2 linked regions of the Homo sapiens genome follow. The protein of the gene in region 2 interacts with the protein of the main gene of each other region in a pairwise test. Each region holds a gene or a part of one and is shown on either strand. Other genes may lie near its edges.

Region 1 (7,029 bases), on a different chromosome or scaffold from region 2:
TGCCCATCCCAATGATAAAGGGGCAAATTTACTTTGGAACCAGGCCCACTTGAATCTAAAACCCTTTGTGTTTCCAGAGATCTGTGCCACAATGCAATATTTTGCTAAGTCTGAGCTATCCAATATGGTGGCCATGAGCCACACATGACTATTAAGACTTGAAACGCAGCTAGTTTGAATTGAGATGCTAATTACACACCCATTTTCAAAGACCTAGTATGAAAATAAGAATGTAATCTATCTCATTCATAATGTTTTCATATTGATTACATGCTGAAACGATTGCAGTGGCTCACGCCTATAATCTCAGCACTTTGGGAGGCCACGGTGGGCAGATCACTTGAGCTCAGGAGTTTGAGACCAGCCTGGACAACACAGCGAGACCCCATCTCTACAAAAAAAATAATAAATTAGGCAGGAGTGGTGGCTCACTCCTGTATTCCCAGCTACTCGAGAGGCTGAGGTGGGAGGATCACTTGAGCCCAGGAGCTTAAGGCAGTGAGCCACGATCACGCCACTGCACTCCAGCCTGGGTGACAGAGCGAGACCCTGCCCCCACCCGACCCTGCCCCCACCCCACCCTGCCACCAAAAAATACACGTAAAAAATAATTGGCTGGGCATGGTGGGTTACGCCCAAAGTGTAAGCCCAACACTTTGACAGGCCAAGGCAGAAGCATCACTTGAACCCAGGAGTTTGAAACCAGCCTGGGCAACAGAGTGGGACCCTGTTGCTATAAAAAATTTAAAAATTAGCCGGACATGGTGGTACACACCTGTAGTCCCAGCTACTCAGAAGGCTGAGGCAGGAGAATTGCTCCAGCTGGGAGGTCTAGGCTGCAGTGAGCCAATGAGTCGTGATTGCGCCACCCTGAGTGACGGGGTGAGAGATCCTGTTTAAAAAAAAAAAAAAATTGAATTGAAAGCAAGGACTCAAGATACTAATGTTCATAGCAGCATTATTCACAATAGCCAAAAGATGGAAACAACTAAGAGTCCATAAACAGATGAATGGATAAGCAAAACGTAGTATATACATACAATGGAGTATTACTCAGCCATAAAGGAAATGAAATTCTGATACATGCTACAACATGAATGAACCTTGAAAACATTATGAGCTTTGAATAAATATATATGAAATAAGCTAGACACAAAAGGACAAATATTGTATGAGTCCCCTTATATGAGGTACCTGGAATAGGCAAATTCAGAGACAGAAAGTAGAATTGAGGTTACCAAGGGCTGGAGGGAAGGGAAATGGGGAGATATTGTTTACTGGGTACAGAGTTTCAGTTTGCAAAGATGAAAAAGTTCTAGAAATAGACAGTGATGACGGTTATACAACACTGCAAATACCACTGAATTGTAAACTTAACAATGGTTAAAATGGTAAATTTGTTACATATATTTTGTCACAATTTTTTAAAAATCTGTTTCTTTTTACCCATTTATTTATTTATTTATTTAGAGACAGGGTCTCACTCTGTCACCCAGGCTGGAGTACAATGGCACAAACATAACTCACTGTAGCCTCAAACTCTTATGCTCAAGTGATCCTCCTGCCTCAGCCTCCCAAAGTGTTGAGATTACAGGCATCATCCCTTTTTGCTTTTTAAATGTGGCTACTGGAAAATGTAAAATTATACATAGTCTGTATTATATTTCTGTGGGGAAGCCCTGGGGTAGAGACAATCCTAAAGACCTGCCTCACAGGGCGCAGTGGCTCACGCCTGTAATCCCAGCACTTTGGGAGGCTGAGGTGGGCAGATCACCTGAGGTCAGGAGTTTGAGACCAGCCTGACCAACATGGAGAAACCCCGTCTCTAATAAAAATACAAAAAAATTAGCCGGACATGGTGGCAGGTGCCTGTAATCCCAGCTACTTGGGAGGCTGAGGCAAGAGAATCGCTTGAACTCGGGAGACGGAGGTTGCAGTGGGCCGAGATCACGCCACTGCACTCCAGCCTGGGCAACAAGAGTGAAACTCCATCTCAAAAAAAAAAAAAGGCCTGCCGCCACCTTGGCTCTGCTGCTTCACTGCTTTGCACCATGTTTCCAACATGAAGTAACCGAAGAATAATAAAAACAACCTTCGTAAGTAAACAGAGCCGGACTTACACACGAGTATTGCTTCCCTTTCAGCCTGGTCACTTCAGAAGGTCATGTGCCTGGGGCAACAGGATGGCCACTTTTCACATCAGCTCTGTCTACCATGGGAATGGCCTTCAAAGCTTGAGGCTCTTTTTCTTCCCAGCCAGAATCCTCAGAGCTGGCAGATCTTCATCCTCCCAGGAAGGATTTGACTTCTGGAAAGAGCCCAACATCATCTGGTTCCAAGTGCAGTGAATCAGGTGGCACTGAGCTCAGGAATACCATTTTTGGTCAAATACAAGGTATGATGCTCAGACTCCAAGCAGATTACTTGGGGTGGCTCATAAACTGGCCCTGAAGTGAATTCCAAGGCGGCTGCAAGAACAGCTTCACTGGAAGAAATGTAACAGCCTCTACCAGCACCACCACCATGTGAATACCAAAGCTTAAGAACGCGTCCTCATTTCTCCGCAGTTGCACCTCATAAAGTGTGCATTTTTTAAAACGCCCTTGGCCCCAAGCTTTTTGCTTAAGGCTGTAACAAGCTTTATGAGCTTATAAATACTCAGATTTACTAGTGTTACTACTAACAGCAACATTGTGATAAGAAATATTTGGAGTGGTACAATAGAAAGATAGGGCAAGAGTTGGGAAGCAGAGGACAAAAGCCCCTGCTCTATCTGCAAGTAGCTACACTTTGGGCTAATAATCTCTTGACCTCTGGAGACGGGATGTTCTCATGAGCCAAGCAACAATGATACCTATAATACATTTAGGCCTTTTTTTAAAAAATGGCAATTAGACAAAATATAACAAGAGCCATAAAAGTGATTATATCCTTTGACTGAATAACTTACTTCCTAGAATTTATAGTAAGGAAACAATTCAAAAGAAGAAAAAGCCTTCAGGTACAAAAAAGTTCATGGCAGCACTATTCATAATACTGAAAAACAGGAAGCAACCCAGGCGTCCAACAATCAGGAAGCAGTTAACCCAGTGATGGTACATCATGGCATAATCCCTCTTCACTAACCCGGCAAATATAAACATTGTGTATCAGGTCAGTGGAAAGTCTTTGCAAAGTAACAGTAATTGAAAAAAATAAGCAATTGTATAAACACTATGATTGGAACCATCTATAAGCTGATTTCATGGGCTAAAGATCAAAAGATGCTACAGAAACATAAATAGTTGCTGTTAAGGTGAATAAGTCATGAGTTTTAATTTTTTGGAATGTTATGAAACAATAAAGTATCTAAGAAAAATCTATGCCCTACCTACTTCCTTCACAAGACTTTTGTTAGGGTATAATGTCATACTGTCCAATAAAGCTTTCTGCAGTGATGGAAATGTTCTGTATTTGTGTTCTCCAAATGGTAGCCACCAGCCACATGTGGCTGTTGAAAACTTAAATGTTACAGAGAAACTGAATTTTTCATTTTATTTAACTAATTAACAATAAAAAGCCACATGTGGCCAAAGGTTCCCTACTGGACAGCACAGGTGTAACAGGAGGGTGGTTGTGAAAAGGTTCTGGAAACATAAACTGCTCTACACACACTGTGCGCCGTACGGCTCTCATCTAGTTCTCTCTGCACCTCTGTGCTTTACTTCCCAGCCCTCCTGCCAGTATTTCTGGGCTTTCCTTTCCTGATGACCAAAGTCAAACAAGTCCTATTCATCCTGCAGATCTCAACTAGGAGACACCCCTTCGACTGGCTGTGACAGGTTTTGTTCCCTGGCCATTGTTCCAGCAGCAGCAGCAGTCGGCAAATGAACGGCCAGGTGTTGCGAACAGCACTTTACAGGCAGCAACTCGCATACTTCACCACCACACTGGGAGGTGGTATTACTAATGAGGATGAGGAAACCAAGGCTTGGAGAGGTTATATGACCTACCCAGGGATAACCTGGCTGATAAGTGGCAAAGGCAAGATTCAAAGGGGCTGGCTTCCCCAGAGTCAGGGCGCTTACCCAGTATGTCAATCGTTTTCAAACTGCAGGCTGTGGCCCATTAGTGAGCCAGGAAAACCATTTAGGGGGCTGCAACCAGCATTTTTTATTAGCCAGCACTTTATTTAAGTAGGTAAATAACAATAGAAAATATCAAAGAGTATCACATTAAGGGCCGGTATTATATCCTGAAGCTTTTTCAACATCCATCTACATCTGAGCATGCATGTGCTGGATCAAATTTTAGAATGTTATTTCTTATTGTTTGAGAAATATTACACTGGAATCTACTGTTTTCTATTTGATCCATTGTAATCTCTTGAACAGCAAGGATCTTGGGTACATCTTGAGTTTATTCCAGGTCCTGACTCATAAATATTTGGTAAATGACTAAGCCTATGCCTCTGTTTCCCACCTCGAAAGCAAGAGCAGATGCCTCAACCAACAGAGTCATCATTTAACGACAAGGAGGAGCTGAGAGGCCACGAGGTTTCCCTAGACTCTCCTGATGAGTCAGGGCAGAGCTGCTATCCTGGTCTCTAGCCCTGTCCTGCTCCAGACTTGCTTACAGGTAGAGGTTTTTATACACCAGGGGACTTTCATACCCCATCAGAATTTAACAAAAGGTGCATAATTAATTATTACTGAACGTGGCAAATAATTTCATGAGGTTACTGGACACTGCGAAGTTCACCCCTGAATGCCAGACACTGGTGACGTAAGACATTAATTCATTGGACAAATATTTATTGTGAATCTACTATGTGCCAGGCACTGGTCTAATCCCTGCCACGGAGTTTCCATTCAGTTAGAAGTACTCACATACACACATACACATGCAATGTCAGGGGTGAGTATTACAATACATACAGGAAGGAAGAAGAGGATAGTACTATTTAATATGAGGTGGTCGGGGAAGGGCCTCTCTGCAAAGGTGACATTTCAACAGAGGAAAGAAGAAAGCAAAGGAAGAAGTCATTTAAACATCTGCCAGAGTATCCCAGGATGGAGGGACGGCAAGGGCCAAGTCCCTGAGGCAGGAATAAGCATCATGATCAAGAACAGTCAAGTAAGCAAGCTGCAGGCCATTATGAGGACTCTGGCCAGTCTCTGAGTGAAAAGGGAACTACTGGAAGGTTCTTAGCAAAGAAATCACATGGTCTCACTCATTTCAAAATGATCCCTCTGGCTGCTTTGTTGACAACAGACTGTAGGGGACAAGACTGAAAGCAAGGAGACCAGTGAAGAGGCTACTTTAACAGTCAAAAGACACATTTGCACCAGGGTGGTAGCTGTGGAGGTGGTAAATTCTCAGCTTACAGATATATTTTGGTGAAGGCCAACAGGAATGCTGAGGTGAAATCTGAAAGAAGTTAAAAATAATCCCTGAAGAAGGGGAAACTATCCTGTATGACACTATAATTAGGAATACAAAATATTAAGCATTTGTCAAAACCCAAAAATCTTGACAGCACAAAGAGTAAAGTTTAATGTATGCAAATATTTTTAAAAAGACATAGGAAGGCCATCACAGTGGCTCACACCCATAATCCCAGAACTGTGAGAGGCCAAGGCAGGAGGATTGCTTGAGCCCGGCAGTTTGCGACCAGCTTGGGCAACATAGTGAGACCCAGTTTTTAAAACACACCAACATACACACGCATGAAGTCAGGGTGTTCCAGGATGGAATGCAGAATGTGACATTCTGAATCCAAATGTATTAAACAACTTCACTGAAAGGGTAGTGGGGGAATAGGGTGCTGACCTAAGTAACTTTGAAAACGAGTGGAGCCTGTAAGACTGAAGGCAAAAGGAACTGCACGTACACACTGTACTCTAGCTGATAAGTTGTTTCCCACAGGGGATCGGGGGAGCAATTCTAAAACCACCATACATGTATGCTAAATGGAACAATTAAGTAAATGTATGGTGAATGGTGGGAGTCGGGTTTGTCACAGGTGGAGTGGGAGGTTACAGACAAGCAAGAGAAGGAAGCTAGAACACAGGTCCCCAACCCCCAGGCCACAGACCAGTACCAGTCCATGGCCTGTTAGGAACCAGGCCGCACAGCAGGAGGTGAGCAGCAGGTGAGCAAGCGAAGTTTCTTTTATATTTACAGCCGCTCCCCATCACTCACATTACCGTCTGAGTTCCACCTCCTATCAGATCAGCGGCTGCATTAGATTCTCATAGAAACACGAACCCTATTGTGAACTGTGCATGTGAGGGATCTAGGCTGTGTGCTCCTTATGAGAATCTAATGCCTGATGATCTGTCACTGTCTCCCATCACCCCCAGACGGGACTGTCTAGTTGTAGGAAAACAAGCTCAGGGCTCCCACTGATTCTACATTATGGTGAGTTGTATGATCATTCCATTATATATTACAATGTAATAGTAACAGAAATAAAGTGCACAATAAATGTAATGCACTTGAATCATCCCAAAACCATCCCCACCCCCAGGTCTGTGGAAAAATTGTCTTCCATGAAACCGGTCCCTGGTGCCAAAAAGGTTGGGGACTGCCAAGCTAGAACAATCCATGCAGTCATGGATAAGAGTTGGACATCAGTTATGTTTAGCTGAACGTAGATACAGGTGGTTATATATGGAAATACTTCTAGATCTGTGCATATATACGTATGTCTCTTACTCTGTCCACTGCGAAGGCCTAGAAGCAAGGACACTGAGAAGCACTGAGCATACCTAGAGCCCAGATCTTGTTTTCTGGGCCATTCTCCAATAAAAGGAGCCAGGGCTCCTTGGGAAATGGCTAATTCTAGGACTGGGGCAGAAACATACCAGATGAGTCTGGAATAGAAAGAAAGTGCTCAACAAAACAAAACAAAGCAAAACATATAGAGGGGGATATGTCAAAGGGATACAGGAGCCAAGTGGAAGAGCTCCCAATGGCCAATGGAGGAACAATTTCAGCAACAAAATAAAGTAGTACTGGATTCTGGTCCAAAGTATAAAATAAACA
Region 2 (6,342 bases):
CTCAAGGAGGCTGAGGCAGGAGAATTGCTTGAACCTGGGAGGTAGAGGTTGCAGTGAGCCGAGATCACACCGTTGCACTCCAGCCTGGGTAACAAGAGTGAAACTCTGTCTCACCAAAAAACAAAAACAAAACAAAACAAAACAAAACAAAACCAACCTAAAAACTAAACTGCAAGGAAGGCCAACAAACTTATTTTTCTCATAACAATTGCTTGGATGCTTTTTTAAAAAAGTAAAATTAAAATAATCAGTGTGAACAAAATGATCCTTTTGTTTTCTGGTTTCTTGTCTTCCTCTGCCCCCCATGCCCTGGCCCCCTGCCCCCTGCCAGTTGGTTGGGGCCACTAGCCGGCAACACCTACACTTCTGGTCCCCCAGGCCCTTGGTGCCCAGTAGCCTGGGAGCACTTCAGGAGCCTTGGCTCCCAGGCCCTGCCCTGGCCTCGCCCTCTGCACCCTGACAGTCAGTAACTTTTGCTGAATGAACAAAATAATGCTTACATCAACTTTAGGCTTTTAGAATCCATTAATCCATTCTTTTCCAAGCAAAGGTGGTAATGAAAATGGAAAAGAAAACCATTCCAGAAAGAAGACAAGGAAGAGAGTGGAAACATATTGCTGTAAAATACACTGCCGTTTCAGACACCAGGAGCCTCCTCCAAGTCATTTCTTTCCCTTTGCTGGCCCTGGTGGCTTGCCAGGTTCTGGTGGCTTGGCGGGTTCTGGTCCCTTGCCCTGCTGGGGTCCTTTTTCCTTTCCTGGAGGAGGAACCAGCATATGCTTTTTGGCCTTCTTGCCTCTGAAGTGGTTTCTTTGAAGACACACATCGATAAAAGCAAAAACTCCAGCCGCACCAATAAGGATCTGGAAAACAAAACGGTCCTCATGACTTTTGCTTTTCATTCCAAAGGTGGTGAGTTTCCCTCCTGGTTTCTCATTCATCAGGGGGTGCTGTTTCACACATCCCCCATGTCCCCTCAAATGTCAACCATCTCTGAGAGGCTAGGAGCGTGCCTACTCCCTCAGCCTTTGCCTTCTCCACTCCCCCGTCCTGCCATCTCATCTCTGTTTCTTTTCTCTCTTGAAACCCAGCCAGAGTGGGACTGTTTGCTCTGGGGTCGGCAGCTACAGGAAGGAACTTGGGCTGGCTCCCCGGACATCATCTTTATTTAAATGGTGGTTCCGTTGGAAACATCTGTCTACTTTACTTTTTTTTTTTTTCCTTTGAGACGAAGTCTCGCTCCGTCGTCCGGGGTGGAGTGCAGTGCTGCAATCTCTGCTCGCTGCAACCTCTGCCTCCTGGATTTAAGCGATTCTCCTGCCTCAGCCTCCCAAGTTGCTGGGATTACAGGCATGTGCCACCATGCCTGGCTAATTTTTGTATTTTTAGTAGAAAATACATTTTCTACTAAATTTTGTAAATTTTGTGTTTTTGTATTTCACCATGTTGGCCAGGCTGGTCTCAAACTCCTGACCTCAGGTGATCCGCCCGCCTCGGCCTCCCAAAGTGCTGGGATTATAGGCATGAACCACTGCACCCGGCCTACTTAACTTTTAAACTTTGCTTTGATCCCAAGACTTTTGTGGAAAATAAAGAAGCCCTTTCCTTAAACAGAGGACAACACCCATCCTCCAAAAGAAGTGAATTCAGAGCAAATGCAAGGCCCAGCATGGAAAGACTCACCACAGCAAGTAAGTAGTGGAGATTCATGGATCGCCGACTTCTCACAGCAAAGACCACGGCTCCCACAAGGAACGCACAAGCAATCAGGTCGTTGAAGAGGTCCTGAAGGTGGAGAGGTTAGTCAGCCTCAGCCAAAGCCAGGGTCCCCATCAACAAACACTGCACCCTGGCTAGCTTCCTCCAAAGGAATGATTTGCAAATTTCCACCTGATTTTAAAATGTATGCATAAAGATAAACACACACCGGGCTAGGTGGACATATCTGTGGCCCTCCAGCTGGGCTTTTTAAATTGAAACCTAAAAAGTCCAGGATGCTAAAATGCCCTCGTGCTGAAGCCTGTGAAGTCACCAGCCCCCTCTTCTACCATCTCTCTGTGAAATCACACATTTGGTTTCTGCCTATGTCTCCTCCCACTAATACTCATTTATTATTTTTATTTTCTACTTTTTGAGACAGGGTCTTACTCCGATTATGCAGGCTGGAGTGCAGTGGCACAATTTCTGCTCACTGCAGCCTCGACCTCCTCAGGCTCAGGTGATTCTCCCACCTCTGCCTCCTGAGCAGCTGCGACTACAGGTGTGTGCCACCAAGCCTGCCTAATTTTTTTTTTGTGTGTATTTTTAGTAGAGACGGGGTTTCACCATGTTATCCAGGCTGGTCTCGAACTCCTGGACTCAAGCGATCTGCCTTCCTCGGCCTCCCAAAGTGCTACGATTACAGGTGTGGGCCACAGCGCCCAGCCAATACACATTTAAATAAATACACAACTATAAAACGTCATGATGTCCCTCTTAAGGACCCCACCACCGCCTTTCAGCTCCCAGGACCAGCTCCCCTCTCTGGAGTCTGGGTGGGCTGCACTGGCTCTGATGGACTCTAGCATCTCACTGGGAGCCTGGCAGCTTCTTCTGCAACCCCCTGCCCTCGGCCTGACTTCCTAGACCCCTTCCCCTCTTTGCAAGGCAGCACCACCTCTTCCTTCCTCAACCCTCCTGCCCATCCCCTGTGACTTCAGTCTCGCCCTCCCCATACCATATACGCATTTCCCTCCTGCTAGTGACAAGGCATTGCCAAACTTCTCAGAGCTGGCCAAACCATGGCCATAGCAGGCTGGCTTCCTCCCGCATTTCTCCTGGGCCTAGAGGATGGGGTGAGAAGCAGCTGATCCTGCAGCGCTGGAAGACACCTGCCATCCCCCTTGGTTTCTATAGTGCCATTTCCTGCTGTTGTCCTTTCCTGGCCACTTTGTTTCAGGCCTTTTCCTTTTTAATGTTTTGAATTTTGATACATTTCAAATGCCCAGAAAATAATAGAACATCCTATCCCCGACTCCCACCTCCACCAGGCCAGGAGCCACTGACATTTAACAGATGTTAACGTCTTGCCAACGTCCCCTTTAGGCCTCTTTGAAAACAAGAAGTCCAACTTCACGGATGGAGCTGCAGCCCCCTCGCTTCCTTCCCTTTTCCTGTCCCTCATGCCTCCCTCCTCCAACTTTTGGAAGCTGATGTGCAGTTTTCCTGTCTGAATTTGTGCTTTTCTACATATTATATATTTATAAACAATGTATACTATTTTGTGTATTTCAAAATACACTTTTTATATTTAAATAAAAAGTATCCTACCTTTCAATGCTTGCTTTTTGACTTTTGAGATTTATCCACATTGAGAAATATAGATTTATTAATTTTAACTGATGTAGCCTACTATATGAATGAACGAAATGAGACACAGGGTGTTTCTACCACTCACTGCAGTCTTGAACTCCTGGGCTCAAGTGATCCTCCCCACCTCAGCCTCAGCTGGGACTATAGGCACCTGCCACTGTGCAATTAAAAAAATTGTTTTTGTAAGCTGGGCGCAGTGGCTCACGCCTGTAATCCCAGCACTTTGGGAGGCTGAGGCGGGCGGATCACCTGAGGTTGGGAGTTCGAGACCAGCCTGACCAACATGGAGAAACCCCGTCTCTACTAAAAATACAAAATTAGCTGGGCGTGGGGGTGCATGCCTGTAATCCCAGCTACTCAAGAGGCTGAGGCAGGAGAATCACTTGAACCCGGGAGGCAGAGGTTGCGGTGAGCCGAGATTGCGCCATTGCACTCCAGCCTGGGCAACAAGAGCAAAACTCCATCTCAAAAAAAAAAAAAAAAAAATTGTTTTTGTAGAGGCAGGGCTTCCCTGTGTTGCCCAGGCTGGTCTCCAAGTCCTGGACTCCTGGACTCAAGTGATCCTCCTGCCTTGGCCTCCCAAAGTGTCGGGATTATAGGTGTGAGCCACTGTACCTGGCCTATGATGTCTTCTGTTGAAGTTTTAATTTTAATGGGATACATAGTCTGTCTCTCTCCCTCCCTTCCTCTCTGTCCACAAATCCCAGGGACATTTATTGAATATTCTATTCAACTGTTCTATAATGCTACCTCCGTCATATACCAAGTTGCCATATGTTTGTAGATCTATTTCTGAGTTCTCTTTTCTATCCCTGTATTAGTCTACTCAGGATGCCATAATAAAATATCCCAGACTGGGTGGCTTAAACAACAGACATTAACTTTCTCGCAGTTTTGGAGGCTGAAGTCCATGAGCAAGGTGCCAGGAAATTCAGTTTCTGGTGAGGGCTCTCTTCCTGGCTTGCAGATGGCTGTCTTCTCACTACGTTTTCACATGGCCTTTCTTTGATGCGTGCGTGTGTATGTGTGTGCATGTGTGTGTGTGTAGAGAGAGAGCAAGCGGGAGAGAGAATTCTCTGCTCTCTTATAAAGATACTGGCTGGGTGTGGTGGCTCACACCTGTAATCACAGCACTTTGGGAGGCCAAGGCAGGCAGATCACCTGAGGTCAGGAGTTCAAGACCAGCTAGGCCAACATGGCAAAACGCTGTCTCTAGTCAAAATTACAAAATTAGCCGGGCTTAGTGGCGCATGTCTGTAATCCTAGCTACTCAGGAGGCTGAGGCAGGAGAATGCTTGAACCAGGAGGTGGAAGTTGCAGTGAGCTGAGATTGTGCCACTGCACTCTAGCCTGGGTGACAAGAGCAAAACTCTGTCTCAAAACAAACAAACAAAAGACACTTATTTGATCAGGGCCCCAATGTTCTGACCTCATTTAACCTTAACTACCTCCTTAGAGGCCCATCTTCAAGTACAGTACAGTGGGGGTTAGGGCCTCAACGTATGATTTTGCAGAGTGGGAGACACAAACATTCAATCTGTAACAATTTTGTTAGTCTTCTTGTCAATCCCTGAGCTAGTACCAAAGCTTTATGGTAAATCTGATATCTTGTTGGGTGAGTCCATCCTTGTTAGTATTTTTTCTTCTTTGATAAGAATTTTAGAATCACCTTGTAAAAGTGCCATGAAAAACCCATGTTAGGTTGAAATTTTATTTAATTTATAGATTAATTCAGAATTGAATTGACATCTCTATGATAAGTTTTCATATTTGTGAATGTGGAATGTTTCTCTATTTACATTTTCCTTTGATGTCCATTACTAAAGTCTTATAATCTCTATGTAGTGTCTTACACATCTTTCAGTAGGTTTATTCTTAGACACCTTGTAGTTTGTGTTGCTGTTTTAAGTGATTTCTTTTAAAGAGCATTTTTTTTTTTTTGAGACAGTCTCGCTCTGTCACCCAGGCTGGAGTGCAGTGGCTCCATCTCGGCTCATGGCAACCTCTGCCTCCTGGGTTCTAGCGATTTTCATGCCTCAGCCTCTCGAGTAGCTGGGATTACAGGCATGCACCTCCATGCCTGGTTAATTTTTGTATTTTTAGTAGAGCTGGTGTTTCACCATGTTGGCCAGGCTGGTCTGGAACTCCTGGCCTCAAGTGGTCCACCCACCTCGGCCTCCCAAAGTGCTGGGAGTACAGCTGTGAGCCCCCGTGCCCAGCCAAAAAAATCCTATGTTTCTCATTGTTCATTGTTGGTATTCAGGAACACTACTGCTTTTGTGTCTGGTAACCTTGTGGAACTCAATCAGTTCTAGTGATTTGACTGTAGATTCTCTTAGATTTTCTGTGTAGATAATTCTATTAGATTTTTCCTCTTGTCAATCTCTATACCTTTTGTTTTTCTTGTCATATTGAACTAAGGTCTCTATCACAATGTTGAATACAAGAGAAGCTAGTAAGCATCTCTAAGGAAATGCTCCTGAAGTGTCACCTAAAATACAATTTGTGCAGGTTTGGATAGATGTCTATTTTATTTTATTTTATTTATTTATTTTTTGAGATGGAGTCTCACTCTGTCGCCCAGGCTGGAGTGCAGTGGCACGATCTCGGCTCACTGCAAGCTCTGCCTCCCGGGTTCATGCCATTCTCCTGCCTCAGCCTCCTGAGAAGCTGGGACTACAGGCACACATCACTGTGCCTGGCTTCTTGACACCTCTTTTATTATTTTTTAGACAGGGTCTCACTCTGTCACTCAGATTGGAGTGCAGTGGCACCATCAGAGCTCTCTGTAGCCTTGACCTCCTGGGTTCAAGCCATCCTCCCACCTCAGCCTCCTGAGTAGCTGGAACAACAGGCATGTGCCACCATGCTTGGCTAATTTTTAAATTTTTTTGTAGAGACAGGGTCTCCCTATGTTGTCCAGTCTGGTCTCAAACTCCTGGACCAAAGGGACCCATCCACCTCAGCCTCCCAACGTGCTGGGATTACAGG

Evidence for each region. Proteins that work in one complex are often made in the same cells at the same time.
Region 1: the proteins of CMTM2 (region 2) and MANBAL interact in binary tests that used the Homo sapiens proteins (3 or more experiments, as listed by UniProt).

Annotation. Positions count from the first base shown.
Region 1 is NC_000020.11:37,292,626-37,299,654, reverse strand, and holds part of MANBAL (protein MANBAL), read right to left. Parts: intron 2,360-7,029; exon of another isoform or gene 2,121-2,359; intron 893-2,120; exon of another isoform or gene 776-892; intron 1-775.
Region 2 is NC_000016.10:66,582,440-66,588,781, reverse strand, and holds the end of CMTM2 (CKLF-like MARVEL transmembrane domain-containing protein 2), read right to left. Parts: intron 1,786-6,342; coding exon 1,684-1,785; intron 864-1,683; coding exon 663-863; 3' UTR 507-662; downstream 1-506.